4 linked regions of the Homo sapiens genome follow. The protein of the gene in region 3 purifies or fractionates together with the protein of the main gene of each other region. This does not show direct contact. Each region holds a gene or a part of one and is shown on either strand. Other genes may lie near its edges.

Region 1 (3,569 bases), on a different chromosome or scaffold from region 3:
CACTACCACACACACAAATATCCCAGTATCTGCTTAGAAAACTGAGTTGTGAGGGTAGCCTGGCTGCAGTGAAGATGGTGAGAAGCCAGGAGCCTGTTTTCCATAGTGTGGGGCTTCTTGACCAAATTATAATAATAGTGTGTTAGTTTTTTAGTGCAGCTATAGCAAATTAGCACAAACTTAGTGGCTTAAACAATCCAGACAATCCTTATCTTACAGTTTTGCAGGTCAGAAATCCTAAAATCAAGGCTTTGGCAGGGCTGCAGTCCTTCTGGAAGCTCTGTGGGAATATCTGTCCCTTTGCCTTTTTTCAGCTTCTAGAAGCACCTGCCTTCCTTGGTTCATAGCTATATACTCCATATTTGGAGCCAATAGCATAGCATCTTCCAATCTTTCTGTTTCCATCTTCTCTGATCTTCCCGCCTCCCTCTCATAAGGACCCTTGAGGTGACATTGGACCTGGCTGCATAATCCAGATCATCTCCCCATCTCCATATCAGTCACACCTGACAAGTCCCTTTTGCCTTGTAAGGTAACATATCCACAGTTTCCAGGGATTAGGATGTGGGCATCTTTTGGGGGGGCTTTATTAACAAAGATATATATAGCTTACCATGCCTGTTCATTCTTTCATTTATTCCTACAAGTATTTATTAGGTATCTACTATGTAGCAGACGTAATACTGCTTCTGTAATTGGTCTTATCCTCATAGGAGCCCCATAGGGTAGGAAGATGTCATTTGCAGCCATTATGAGTCATGATTTCCACATCAGTGAGTGGTTAAGGGACTTTCTCAAGGCCACACAACTCGTGCTAGAGTCAGAGCTGGAACCTGTTGTAACTAGAAAAGTACACTCTGCCCCTCTTCATCTAAGGCCACCCTTGGAGAATCTCGTGGCCTCAGGTTTCCAGCCCATTTTGTCCCCTTGCTCTGGGGACTTTCCAGTTCGTCTCTCATTCCTTTCCCTCTGTCCTAGATGAAGGAGGAGCGTTTCAGGCAGCTGTTTGCCGCCTTCGGCACGCTGACAGACTGCAGCCTGAAGTTCACCAAAGATGGCAAGTTCCGCAAGTTTGGTTTTATTGGCTTCAAGTCCGAGGAAGAGGCCCAGAAGGCACAGAAGCATTTCAACAAGAGCTTCATCGACACATCCCGGATCACAGTGAGTGGGCAGGAGTCTCACCCTTACCTTCCTGTCAAGTGTGACGTTGTTTGATCTTTCACTCAGCACTTGAGTTCAAAGACCGTCCCTCTTCACTTTGTGATGTCTTTGGTTTTCTTCCTCACCGATTCACACACTTTCATGTGCATACAAATCACCTGAGAGCTTATTATAACAGCTTCCTGGGCCCGTCCCCAGAGCATCTGATTCAGTGCATGGAGTCAGGACCCAAGAATTCACACATCCAACAAGCCCTCAGGTGACGACCATGCTGCTGGTCTGAGGCCCACACCTTGAGAACCACAGCTCTACCTCATCCATTCACTCATGCATTTAGCAAGCACTCAATGATGCTGGGAGTTTAGAGAAAAAGGTGATGCCTCAGCCCCTGTCCTCATGGAGCCTGCTGTCTCTGGGCAGGCAGGGGGCTGACAGGTCAGCAGGCTGCTTTGGCTCAGTGACATCAGTGCTATGATAGGGTGAGCCCCAGGGACTGTGGGAGAACAAAGATCTATAGCCGGACCAGGGAGGAGTCAGGAAAGCTTCCTGGAGGAGTGGGCTCCACTCAGGTCACTCGTGTATTTAGTGACTTCGTAAAAACATCTCTAATGCTTTGTTGAGAAGGAAAAAACAGATGATGGATAAATATATATATGTCTCGTGATCCTATATAGACACAATCGTATTCCTCTATCCATACATATATGATAAATGCATAGAAGGCCATAGGATAGGATTTGTACCAAAATACTAATCATTCCTCTCCATGAGTGATAGGAATTGGAGTACATCTTTTTTAACTTCCATTGTACTTTTGTATATTATTTGAATTTTGTACCGTGAGCATGTCATTATTATAGAGATAACAAGCCTATTTTGGAAGTGTGCACAAAAGGGATTGTAACTGGCCAGGTGTGGTGGCTCCTGCCTATAATACAAGCACTTTGGGAGGCTGAGGTGGGAGGATCACTTGAAGCCAGGAGTTCAAGACCAGCCTGTGCAACATAGCAAGACTGCGTCTTTACAAAAATAAAAAAAAAAATTAGCCGGGCATGGTGACATGTGCCTGGAGTCCTAGGTATTCAGAAGGCTGAGACAAGAGGATCACTTGAGCCCAAGAGTTTGAGGCTGCAGTGAGCTATGATCATGCCACTGCAGTCCAGCCTGGGCAACGGAGTGAGACCCTGTGTCTTAAAAAGGATTGCAACCAGATGGCAGCTCCTTCCCCCAGGGGCAGTGGTTGGTTGACCAGCGTCAGCCTTAACTGTGGCTGGGAGTGGCTTGCGGTGGTGGATGCCCCAGTAACCAGCGCTCTCAAAGTCCTCTCAGAGGAGTGTATTGGAGGTTTTAGGGCCTGAATAGTGCGTCAGCTCAGGCTGGGTCTCCAGTACTCTTCCGTCCCTCCAGTGGTCACCCCAGTGCCCCTATCACCCTAGAATTGTTCTCTGGAGCCAGATGAGCTTACTTTATGATAATTAACCCAGGGCAGTGTGGGGTAACTGTGGTAGCCACTGCCCCACATTACCCTGCCCAGAGCCTGGTTGAGTGCTTGGCCCAGGTCATCTCATGCCATCCTCACAGCCGCCCGGTAGAGTGGATGGTTAAGAACTCAGGTTCCAGAGCCCAGAGACCCCCTGAGTTCCAGTCTTCACTCTGTCACTTATTACCTGGGTAAGCCAGGGAAATTGACTTCTTGATGCTCCAATTTCTTGATCTGAATTGTAGAAAGTCATAGCTGTCACTGACATGAGAGGCTCGGTGTATCAGTACTTGCAGAGCACTTCAGACAGTACCTGGCATGTGGAGTTCCTCAGTAAGTGGCAGCTATTACCATTACAGTATTACAGACTCATAATGATAGACTGTTAGAGTATTGTATTCTAGACTTGAAGGGAAAGAAAGCCCAGGCTAAGGGGTGACGTGTAATCTACTTCAGCAAACTCAGCTAGGCAGTGACAGTTGTCTGAAATGCCCGAGCTCCCAGGTGCCGAAGGGCAGCACCCAACGCCTGGGTGCCATGGCAGGTGTGAAAATCACTCTCTTTCCCACACAGGTGGAGTTCTGCAAGTCATTCGGGGACCCGGCCAAACCCAGAGCCTGGAGCAAACATGCCCAGAAACCAAGCCAGCCCAAGCAGCCTCCAAAAGACTCTACTACTCCAGAAATTAAGAAAGTATGTAAAGGGTCACTCTAGCCTCTGTCCCCACTGCCAGCAGGGTAGTCACTCACTTTTGGTTCCCAAAGATGGGCCCTCCCAGGTCAGTGCAGTTCTGTTTCCCAGCTCTCTTCATCTGTGTGACCCTCACTCTCTGTGCCTTCTGTTTTCAGGATGAGAAGAAGAAAAAGGTGGCAGGTCAACTGGAGAAGGTGAGTCTGTCCTGTTGCCCAAGGAGGAGAGAGGGTGGGCA
Region 2 (3,569 bases), on a different chromosome or scaffold from region 3:
AACTTTAGGCATGTTCTTTAACTTCTTTTGGCTCAGTTTATTCATCTGTGAGGTTTAGATGAACAAGTGCATGTGGAATGCTTAGAGTAGTGCCTGGCACATAATCAGTGCTATTCAAGAGTTTGCTGCTGATATCGTAGAGTCACTGCTTGATCCTGGGGTCAGAGTAGCTAAGGGGACAGAGGGAAATTTCTGCGCTTTTTCTGTGGAAGGAATAAATACTCAGCAGCTGCCTATAATAAAGTGTTAGTAGAAATCAATTGAATTAGGAGGAATTTCTCATAATAGAAGAGCCTTTATTTTTTAGTCCCCCTTGTCTTTATTTTTTTAGTTAGGGAAAAGGCAAGTGGCTCAGTTCAGATTTAATGAGGGCAGTTATTCTTACTTACTACCATGCTTTCAGTGTTCACCCTAACCTGTTCTAACAATAAATAACTGCTTGTTTATTGGGGCTTAGGGACAGGGAATAATTGCAGGAAAAATCTCTACTATGTTCTTCTGAAGAAAGGAAATATTTTCTCGTAGGAAAATTTGATGAAAAAATTCACATTTAAATAAAGACCTTTTTTTGTTTTTTAAAAATACATACAGTATTTGTTAAGAGCCAAAATACTTTATTAAGTGCCTTTATTTGTTTTTTATTAAAAATTTAATATGTGCTTTTTGAAATGTAAACAATGAAGAATGAAGAGTTAAAAAAATGAGTCTGCTTTGAACCTATTCCCTAATCCTTGTCTCTTTTCAGAGAAAATGTCTATTTTTTGTATGTTCTTTCCAGACCTTTTTCTACATGTATGTATATACAATTTTTTTTTAAAAACCAAATGGCATATATTAGGCACATTATGTGTTATATACAATGTTCTCTGTTCTCTGACTTTTTCCTTCTCATTGTGTGTCACTATATATAGATTTACTTCTTTATTTTTAGAAGACATGTAATATTCTCAAGGATGAATATGGTGTAATTCATTTAACTGTTTCCCTGTCGATGAATATCTAGATTATTTCCAATATTTTGTTATAGTTTATTTCAACAAATGTATTGACTGTCAGGCAGTGCTTGTGAACGGATCACAAAAATTCCTGCTCCCATGCAGTTGCCTTTTGGCAGTAGACCGGCAACAAATAAATATATGTTAGTTGATATTGAGGAATGTAAGGTTGGGGAGGAGATAGGGAGTGTGGGGGAGGGGTGTGCATTTTAAAATGGGGTGGTTAAGAGTGAGATACCAATAGATGACATTTGAGTGGAGATCTGGTGAAGGTAACATAATGAGCTCTGAAGGTATTGGTAAGGGAGGAAGAGAGGAATAGAGTATTCTAGGAAGGAGAGAAGCCCAAAGGGAGGTAGGCATGTGCCTGATGTCGTGGGGGAAGAACAATGTGGCTGGAATGAAATAAGCAAGGGAGAGTGGGAGATGAAGTCACAGAAGGTGACGGGCAGTCAGGGCAGATTGTGTTGAGCTTTTTGAACCCACTGTAAGGATTTTTAAAAGATAAATAGTTATTATTTTTTGATTTTAAAAATAGAGTTGGGGTCTTGCTGTGTTGCCCAAGTTGGTCTTGAACTCCTAGGCTCAAACAGTCCTTCCATCTTGACCTCCCAGAGTGCTTGGATTACAGGCATAAGCCACTGCACCCAGCCTATAAATATGTATTTTAATTATAGATATGGGGTCTTGCCATGTTGCCCAGGTTGGTCTCGAACTCCTGGGCTCAAGCTGTCCTCCTGCCTTGGCCTCCCAAAGTGCTGGATTTACAGGCATGAGCCACCAGGCCGGGCCCACTGTAAGGATTTTTGTCTTATGTCGAATGAGGTGGCAAGCCTTTGGAAGTTTCTGAGCAGAAGCATGGCATAATCTTATTTACATTTTGAATGGTCTCTCTGTATTCTTGATAATAGACTTTGGCCAGAAGCAAGAAGGCTATTTAGGAGGGCATTCAGGCATGGTTTGGACCAGGATAGTGGTTTGGTGGTTTGGACCAGGATAGTAGCAGTAGAGGTGGTAGGACATGGCTAGATTCTGGGTGTGTATTAAAGATGAAGTGAGAGAGAGTAGTCAAGGATCACTCTGAAATTTTGGGACTGAACAATTGGAAAGTTGAAGTTGCCGTGAAATGAAATGATGAAAACTGCAGTAGGCAAGGTTAGGAATTTGGCTTTGGGCACGTTCTGTTTGAGAATTTATTAGACATCCAACCAGAGATATTGAGTATGCAGCTGGAAATGTAAATATGAAGTTCAATGGAGAGGTCAGGTTTGGAGAAACAAATGTTGGAGTCTTCAGTTTACTAAAGCAATTTAAAACCCTCAGTTTACCTGGGAGTAAATTAGAGAAGAGAGTCAGGAACAGCCTCTGGGCACTTCAAACTTGGTTAAGGGGCTGAGGATGTGAGAAGGATGCATCGAAGAGACCAAGAAAGGAGCCAGTGAGATAGAAAGGAAACGGAGAAAACCAAGAGAAGGCAGTCAACAGTGTCACTCAAGGAGAACTGAGAATTGACCATTGAATTTAACCATGTGGTAGTGTGGGTGACCTTGCCAAGTGCAATTTTGAGAGAAAAGTAAGGTATGTTTGTAGGAGATTTGAGAAAGGATGGAAGGAAAGGAATTAGAGACTGTTAGTATAAGCATCTCTTTTGAGGAGTTTGTTGTAAAAGAGAGAAAATGGGGCCTTAGCTGGGGGGTGATATGAAGTCAAGAAATTTTTTTTTTTTTTGTTTCTTTCTTAGATGGAGAAATAAAACATTTAAACTTATGGGTAATAGTCCAGCAGACGGACAGTTTGATACATGACAAACTGGAGTAAGTTTAGAGACAAGTTTGAGGAGGACATTTTAATTTATAAGCACATGTGCAAGGATTTTTATAGGCTAGATTCTTAAAAGGATTTCCTGAGTCAAAGGGTATGTGCATTTTAAAAACCTGTACCAATTTATATTCCACTTTCAGTGTATACCCTTTCTAACACTGAACATTCTTAATCTTTAAAATTATTGCCAATCTGATAGGTGATGATATCTTCATTATTTTAATTTGTTTTACTGCTTTCTAGGAACTGTTTATTTAGTCTATCTAATTCTTTGTGATATTTTGTCAGATACTTTCTCCTGGCTGTCTCTTGCCTTTTAACTTTGCTTATGGTATCCTTTTACCATGTACGACTTTTCAAAAATGTTTTTATGCAGTTAAGTTTGTCAGCCATTTCCTATAGCATTTGGGTTTCATTTAGATGATGTAAATATTTGATATAATCTAATATGTTTATACGTTTACATTTTTAATTCATTTGGAGTTTATTTTTGTGTATGTTATGAAAAAGGTTTTCCATCTTTCTCTGTATTCTTAAACAGCTAAATACCATAGGAGTTAACTGTTTCTTGAAGGTTTGAAAGAAATTACCTGTAAAATCTAGGACTAGAACCTCTTTGTAGGGTAGGTCTTTGACTACTGTGTAATTCTTTTTCTGTGGTTAATGATCTGTATGGTTTATGTACTTCTTTTTAGTTTTGGTAGTTGATATCTTCCCAAGAACATCATTGTTTTCATTTACATTTTCAAATTT
Region 3 (3,513 bases):
TCTCAAGCAAGGTTATATTATGATAAGAGAACTATGGAGCCAGCTGCCAACCTTGAAATACAAATTAAACATTTAAGTTGGCATAATGAACATTTCCAGGAAGGGCAGTGGCTAATAATCTGTAGGACAAGGCTACCAGGTTTACTATGGCTCCTCTTCAAATGACAATGACAAAGATTTGAAGTAATAAGGCCAGAAAAGCCTTTTCATTTCCAAAATCATCTTTCCTGGAAGACTTGGAAGTTCAAACTTCACTACGTGAGATTTCACTGCTCTCATATCAAGCCGACTGACCTCCATAGCTCAAGAGACTACCTGTTAGCTGATCCCCTAAAGCATGGAGGATCGATTCAGGAAGGGGGATCTATTCAGGAAGAGATCTATGCATCAGGGTTAGCTGTATGAGAAGTATGAGAAAATCTGCTTATATTATTTTTGGCTACAGACAGGTGTTTCCAATTTCTCATGTTTAGTCTTAAATGCATCCAAGTTTGTGTGTGTGTGTGTTGGGGGTGGAGGGAAGAACCAGATACACTTATTTTCAAACAAAAGCTGCCACATGTTTATTAAGACATTACTGGCTCTTAAGCACAGCTGGATCTATAAATCATTTTCCATATATTATCACATATTCAGGAAAGTTTCTGAGATGATATATCAAGACAGGCTTCTCTTGTGACTCAACTGGACCTGAGGAAAGAACAAAAGAAATTACATACCTGATTTATAGCTGCTGGTCATCAACAGACACGTACTGGCAATGTAATCTTTTGAGACAGGAGAGCTAAACTGCTTTCCCCTCCTTGCTAAAGCTTTGCCCAAAATGCCTGTACCTTTAAAAATCCTTTGTCCTAATTAAATCTATCTGCATTCTCAAAGTCCCTCAACATTCATTAATCTCTGAGGAGACCAAACAGTCAACTGTGATGAAGAGGCCAATTGCAAAGCTCAATCTCAGAACCACCACATCTCAGGCCTGAAAGGACACCATGAGAAGGGAAGGATGTTCTATGGTTTTAAATATTGGGCAGCAGAACTAATGGCCAGCCCCATTATCTAGCTCTGTGAAACAGAGCAAGCTGCTAATCTCTCAAGAAACATATATATAATAAGAGGATTCAAGCTCATACAAGCTATAGCTATATCTGAAGACCCATCTCTCTGTGTTATTAAGTCTTTTGTGGATTAAACATGTTCAGTAATTACAATTTTGATGAGAATTATTGAATGCAACATTAGAGATCAGACCTCAGAAGAACCGAGCCAGATTGCTGTGATTTGGGATAAGAAAGGAGGGTCCAACTTCAGCTAGACAGTTCCTGATCTACTTCCAACCCACCCCTCTAAATAAAGATGCAGTAACTTAGGGGTAGAGAAACAAAGCTCAGCTAATGTGCTGCTTCCACCAACTGACAGCAATGGGTGTATCTTAAAACCTGCAGAATTTGTAAGAAAAGGGTTTTCTTACTTCAAATAGTCTCTTTAGAAGTCTGAGTAATGGTGCAACCTGGAAAAGTAAAAAATAAGTCATCTGAACAACTTTGTAATTACCCACAGTGTTTTCAATTAGATCACAGAAGGGCACTTAGGAAGATTTTAGTGGGAAAAATATGTAATCACAATCATTCACACCAGGCAGTTAGGTTCAGACTCCTCAATCTGACATTCTGGAGGATCTGAACGCCTCAGATTTTAGGTAACATGAGTAGGCTTACTCCAAAGTTTCACATGGGGGGTCTATGAAATACCTGATCAGACATAAACAATAAAAATGTCATCAGTCAATTCCAGTCACTGGTATAGCTAGAAACAGTGTCATTCTAAAGAGCAATGCTCTGGTGGAAAATCTAATGGCCTTTGGGTCTTAGAGAAAAAAAAATTTCACTTATAAAAATACCAAAGGATTTGGAAGAAAATTCTAAGTGCAATAAGAATCTGCATCCTTTTATAAAATACAAACTGAAACAGAACCACTCCAAATCTGATCTGAAATGAGACTGATGAAATTATCCTGGTATAACCTGTTTTCCTTTCAAAGTAAGTAGAACTGTAAACCACATTATTGTCTGGTATATTCTCCTTTCACAACTATTTCCTCAAAACCAATTTACATTCCTCCTTTTCTTCACTCCAGATTTTAGTCCGTTTTGAAAGCAGGAATTCCCTAAAGCATACAAACATAAACACAGGGTTCTATGTAGCATTCACTACCAACACAAGGAGCAAGGCAAGAGGGCTGTGATTTACATCACAAGTTTTCTACTGAAAGCTCTTTAGTTCTCCCTAAAGATCCACCTTGTCACCTATATCTTCTAGCAATGATGCAATTAGGTTTTGTTTGTTCCTGTTTTATAGCCAAGTATGTTGGGTACAGAAAAGAACCTGGACAGCGCATATAAGTTTTGGTTATCTTTGTGGTTAACACCCTTATTTACAGCTTACAGCTACAGGGAAAGAAACACCTTTTAAAAAGAAATCAATTAAATCTAGTGGAGTAAACTGAATTATTAAATCAGCAAAAGCTAATCTAAACATAAGGCACGAAGAAAGTGGAAATATTATTAAAGTGGCTTTTTCTCAATTTGACATTCTCAAAATAGTGCTTTCCAAAAAATATATATATTCCCCAGGTGAAGTTTCCTGCTAGTGACATTTTATGGTAGAAAATTACCCAAAGTACTGCCCAAGGTTATTTATAGATTCAATGCCATCCCCATCAAGCTACCAATGACTTTCTTCACAGAATTGGAAAAAACTACTTTAAAGTTCATATGGAACCAAAAAAGAGCCCGCATAGCCAAGTCAATCCTAAGCCAAAAGAACAAAGCTGGAGGCATCATGCTACCTGACTTCAAACTATACTACAAGGCTACAGTAACCAAAACAGCAGGGTACTGGTACCAAAACAGAGATATAGACCAATGGAACAGAACAGAGGCCTCAGAAATAATGCTGCATATCTACAACCATCTGATCTTTGACAAACCTGACAAAAACAAAAAATGGGGAAAGGATTGCCTATTTAATAAATGGTGCTGGGAAAACTGGCTAGCCATATGTAGAAAGCTGAAACTGGGTCCCTTCCTTACACCTTATACAAAAATTAATTCAAGATGGATTAAAGACTTACATGTTAGACCTAAAACCATAAAAACCCTAGAAGAAAACCTAGGCAATACCATTCAGGACATAGGCATGGGCAAGGACTTCATGTCTAAAACACCAAAAGCAATGGCAACAAAAGCCAAAATTGACAAATGGGATCTAATTAAACTAAAGAGTTTCTGCACAGCAAAAGAAACTACCATCAGAGTAAACAGGCAACCTACAAAATGGGAGAAAATTGTCGCAACCTACTCATCTGACAAAGGGCTAATATCCACAATCTACAATGAACTCAAACAAATTTACAAGAAAAAAACAACCCCATCAAAAAGTGGGCGAAGGATATGAACAGACACTTCTCAAAAGAAGACATTTATGCAGCCAAAAAACACATGAAAAAATGCTCAT
Region 4 (3,569 bases), on a different chromosome or scaffold from region 3:
TTTTCATCTTAATAATTATCTTTTAAAGGAATTTAAATAATAAGAAAAAAACCTCTTGTATATTTATCCATGTAGCTATCATTTCCAGGGCTCTTCATTCTTTGTATAGATCTGGATTTCCATTTTGGTATCATTTTTTCTTCTGGCTGGAGGACTTCCTTTTACATTCCTTGTAGCACAAGTCTTCTGATGATGAATTATTTCAGCTTTGGTATGTCTGGGAAAGTATTTTGCTTTCATTTTGAAGTATATTTTGCTGTACAAATATATTTCTGCTGGAATGGCAGGGTCCTTTTTCTCCTTTAAGCACTTTAAAGACATTGCTTCCCTGACTTGTTGTTTGCGTTGTTTCCAGTAAGAAATGTGTTGTTATCTTTATTCCTCTGTGTGTTTTTTGCTCTGGGTTTGCTTAAGATTTTCTCTTAATACTAGTGTTGAACAATTTGTTCTGTTGTGCTTTGGTATATAGTTTTATTCATGTTTCTTGTGCTTGGGATTCATTGAAATTCTTTAATCCATGGGTTTGTTGGTTTCATGAAATTTGGAAATTTTTTATTCATCTTTCTTCAGATATATTTTCCGTTCCCCCTTCTCTCTCCTCACCGTCATGAAATCTAATTACACATATTTCACCCTACCTAAACCTGCCCCATATCACTGATTTTCTGTTCTTTTTTTCTCTCTTTGTGTTTCATTTTTGGTAGTTTCTGTTACTGTGTCTTTAAGTTCACTAATCTTTTCTTCTGCGGTTTCTATTCTGTGGTTAGTCCCATCAAGTGTATTTTTTATCTAATACATTGTAGTTTTCCTCTCTAGAAATTTGGCTTAGGCCTTTTTATATCTTTATGTCTGTATCTTCTATATGTGAATGTCAGGCACTTTTCCATTCTCTCAGGAGGCTGTTTCCCAGCCTTGATTGAGTAACATGCCTACTCTGATCAGTGCTCCGCAGGATATTCAAGGACACCCTCTGCGTATCTCCAGGGCTCACTCTGTCTGCATGTCTCTTCCTTCCGGTACTCTGTCTTATGAAATCTGGCTGACTTGGTTTCCCTTGACTCTCAATTCAGGGGATCTGCTACACTCTGCCTGGGTTCCTTACTCTGAACAGTGAACTGTCATCTGGGTTTTGATATCTCTCCAAGGGAGGGATAAATGGTCATTGAAAGCAAGTGAGCATGGTGACGGGGTGGGGGTGGCCTCCACAGGGCACGAAGTGAGTTGTACTGAGTCATCTGAGAGTGCAGTGTGCTGCTTCTGGCCAGTGGGCTTGACAGTTCAGTGTCTGGGTTCAGAATATGAGTCTGCCCATGTTCTAAGCATGTTCTAAAGATTCATATCCCAAATTAGTTTTGATTTTGGTGGCCTATAACATCCATGTGATATGAATTATCAAGCTCAATATATAAATGCAGATACATGTATTCAATTCCGAGTTATGCAAGTGTCTTTTTAAAAACTTTCAACCCTGCAGAATTAGCCTGTGATTAGTTAAGATGAGATCGTTTAAACACAGCAAGAAAATAAGTACAAGGGTACTTCAAAAAGTTCATAAAGTTAAAAGATAAAAAAATGTTTAAAGATATAAACATTATTTCTCAACATAAGCTCCATCAAATTCAAGACATTTTTGTAAGTGCTGATCCTAGCCATTTAGATTGTCCCTAAAGAACTGAATGGTGGCTAGGTGTGGTGGCTCATGCCTGTAATCCCAACACTTTGGGAGGCCGAGGCGGGAAGATCATGAAGTCAGGAGATTGAGACCATCCTGGCCAACATGGTGAAACCCCATCTCTACTAAAAATACAAAAACCAGCTGGGCATGGTGGCACGCGCCTGTAGTCCCAGGTACTTGGGAGGCAGAGGCAGGAGAATCGCTTGAACCCAGGAGGTGGAGGTTGCAGCAAGCCAAGATCGCACCACACACTCCAGCCTGGCAACAAGAGTGAGACTCCGTCTCGAAAAAAAGAACTGAATGTCTTGGGAGTTTAACCATGTCAGTGCAGTCTTTCTTACATTAGTAACTGAAGAAAAATTCCTTAAGCATGCCCCTTAAGGAATTTTTGAGATTAGGAAACAAAAAGAAGTCAGAAGGAGCCAAATGAGGTGGATTTGCAACCACCATAAGGTGGATGGCTCATGATTTCCTCTCGAAACCCTCACACACTTGCCCTTGTTTGATGAGAGGAATAAATAGGCGCTTTGTCATGGTGAAGGTCTCTGGCGAAGCTTCCCCAGGGGGTTTCTGCTAAAGCTTTGGCTCACTTTCTTGAAACACTGTCATCATAAGCAGATATTACCATCCTTTGGCCCTCCATGTGAACCCAACAAGCAAAACGCCTTGAGCATCCCAAAAATGCTGCCATGGCCTGTGCTTTGGCCAGTCAGCCTGTGCTTTGACTGGGCCCCTTCTGCCTCTTGGTAGCCTTTTTTTTTTTTTTTTTTGGATTATGCATTTTCTTCAGGATTGTCTTTGTAAAAGCTATTTTTATCTCCTGTTTGATGTTTGTTCTTGCTTCAATTTTAGCAGAAGTCATGTAGCTCTGATAGGAGCGCTTTTCAAACAGATGTCTTAATCTTCTTAGTGCCTCAAACTAGATCCTATTCAGACATGTTTCAGCAAGTTAGTACAAGTTTATTTTGGTGCCAAAAAATTTTGAAATCCATGAGGTTTTTTCATAATAAGCATTTTCCATGAACTTTTTCAAGACTCTTGTTAAGAATTAGGGTTTCCTATTGCATCATGGATGTCACACATGCAAAGCCACGTGACCTGAACATGCCTGGCCTCTCAGTGGCAGGGGAGCACATGCAGGCATGAGCGCCAGAGGTGGTGTGATACAGGAGCAACCCCCACCTGCACGACCTCATGGGACCCTGCATTAGTCTCAGAAGTGGCTCCCACCCATCCACTCTCAGGCTGCCAAGGTTCCTGGCTCCGTCAGTGCCAGAGTGAGAAAAGACACACTTGTCAGGAAGTCTCATGATTTCAGGTTTCTGTCAATCTTCTGCCCACCTGCCCTGTCAGACAAGTGCATACCCGTGGGTCAGTTCTGCTTTCTCAGCACTGCTCCTATTCTGGTGGCCGTGGAAGAGTGTGAGGCCACTGCCACGGCAGATGCACGCTCAAGTCTGCGTATATTCCTCGGCAGGCAGAATTCCCCCACCACGCACTTCTGTGGCCATGTCTGAGCACAGTGTGCCGCCCGTGGCTGCTCCCTCCCTGGGGGTGAAAGCGGGCTTCACACCACCTTCCTGTGTCTTCCGTTTCAGGCATCAGCAATGCAGAAGCACGGCAGCCAGGGAAGGCCCCCAACTTCAGTGTCAACTGGACGGTAGGCGACTCCGCTATTGAGGTCATCAACGCCACGACTGGGAAGGATGAGCTGGGCCGCGCGTCCCGCCTGTGTAAGCACGCGTTGTACTGTCGCTGGATGCGTGTGCACGGCAAGGTACTGAGGCGCCCTCACCGCAATGCGCCGGCTCCACCTCCCCAATAGCTTGTCTGTCCTCACACCTACTGTTCCTTAAGTTGTTTCATCATGTCATCATGCACAGCTTCCGAAAAC

Evidence for each region.
Region 1: the proteins of UTP18 (region 3) and RBM19 fractionate together in Homo sapiens (co-fractionation; one large-scale study listed by BioGRID). This does not show direct contact.
Region 2: the proteins of UTP18 (region 3) and C1D purify together in Homo sapiens (co-immunoprecipitation; one large-scale study listed by IntAct). This does not show direct contact.
Region 4: the proteins of UTP18 (region 3) and ADARB1 purify together in Homo sapiens (co-immunoprecipitation; one large-scale study listed by IntAct). This does not show direct contact.

Annotation. Positions count from the first base shown.
Region 1 is NC_000012.12:113,959,824-113,963,392, reverse strand, and holds part of RBM19 (probable RNA-binding protein 19), read left to right. Parts: intron 1-978; coding exon 979-1,161; intron 1,162-3,214; coding exon 3,215-3,334; intron 3,335-3,489; coding exon 3,490-3,528; intron 3,529-3,569. UniProt on the Homo sapiens protein: Plays a role in embryo pre-implantation development.
Region 2 is NC_000002.12:68,049,455-68,053,023, reverse strand, and holds part of C1D (nuclear nucleic acid-binding protein C1D), read left to right. Parts: intron 1-3,569. UniProt on the Homo sapiens protein: Plays a role in the recruitment of the RNA exosome complex to pre-rRNA to mediate the 3'-5' end processing of the 5.8S rRNA; this function may include MPHOSPH6.
Region 3 is NC_000017.11:51,294,959-51,298,471, reverse strand, and holds the end of UTP18 (U3 small nucleolar RNA-associated protein 18 homolog), read right to left. Parts: intron 1,508-3,513; coding exon 1,483-1,507; 3' UTR 1,469-1,482; intron 691-1,468; 3' UTR 539-690; downstream 1-538. UniProt on the Homo sapiens protein: Part of the small subunit (SSU) processome, first precursor of the small eukaryotic ribosomal subunit.
Region 4 is NC_000021.9:45,217,563-45,221,131, forward strand, and holds part of ADARB1 (double-stranded RNA-specific editase 1), read left to right. Parts: intron 1-3,273; coding exon 3,274-3,452; intron 3,453-3,569. UniProt on the Homo sapiens protein: Catalyzes the hydrolytic deamination of adenosine to inosine in double-stranded RNA (dsRNA) referred to as A-to-I RNA editing.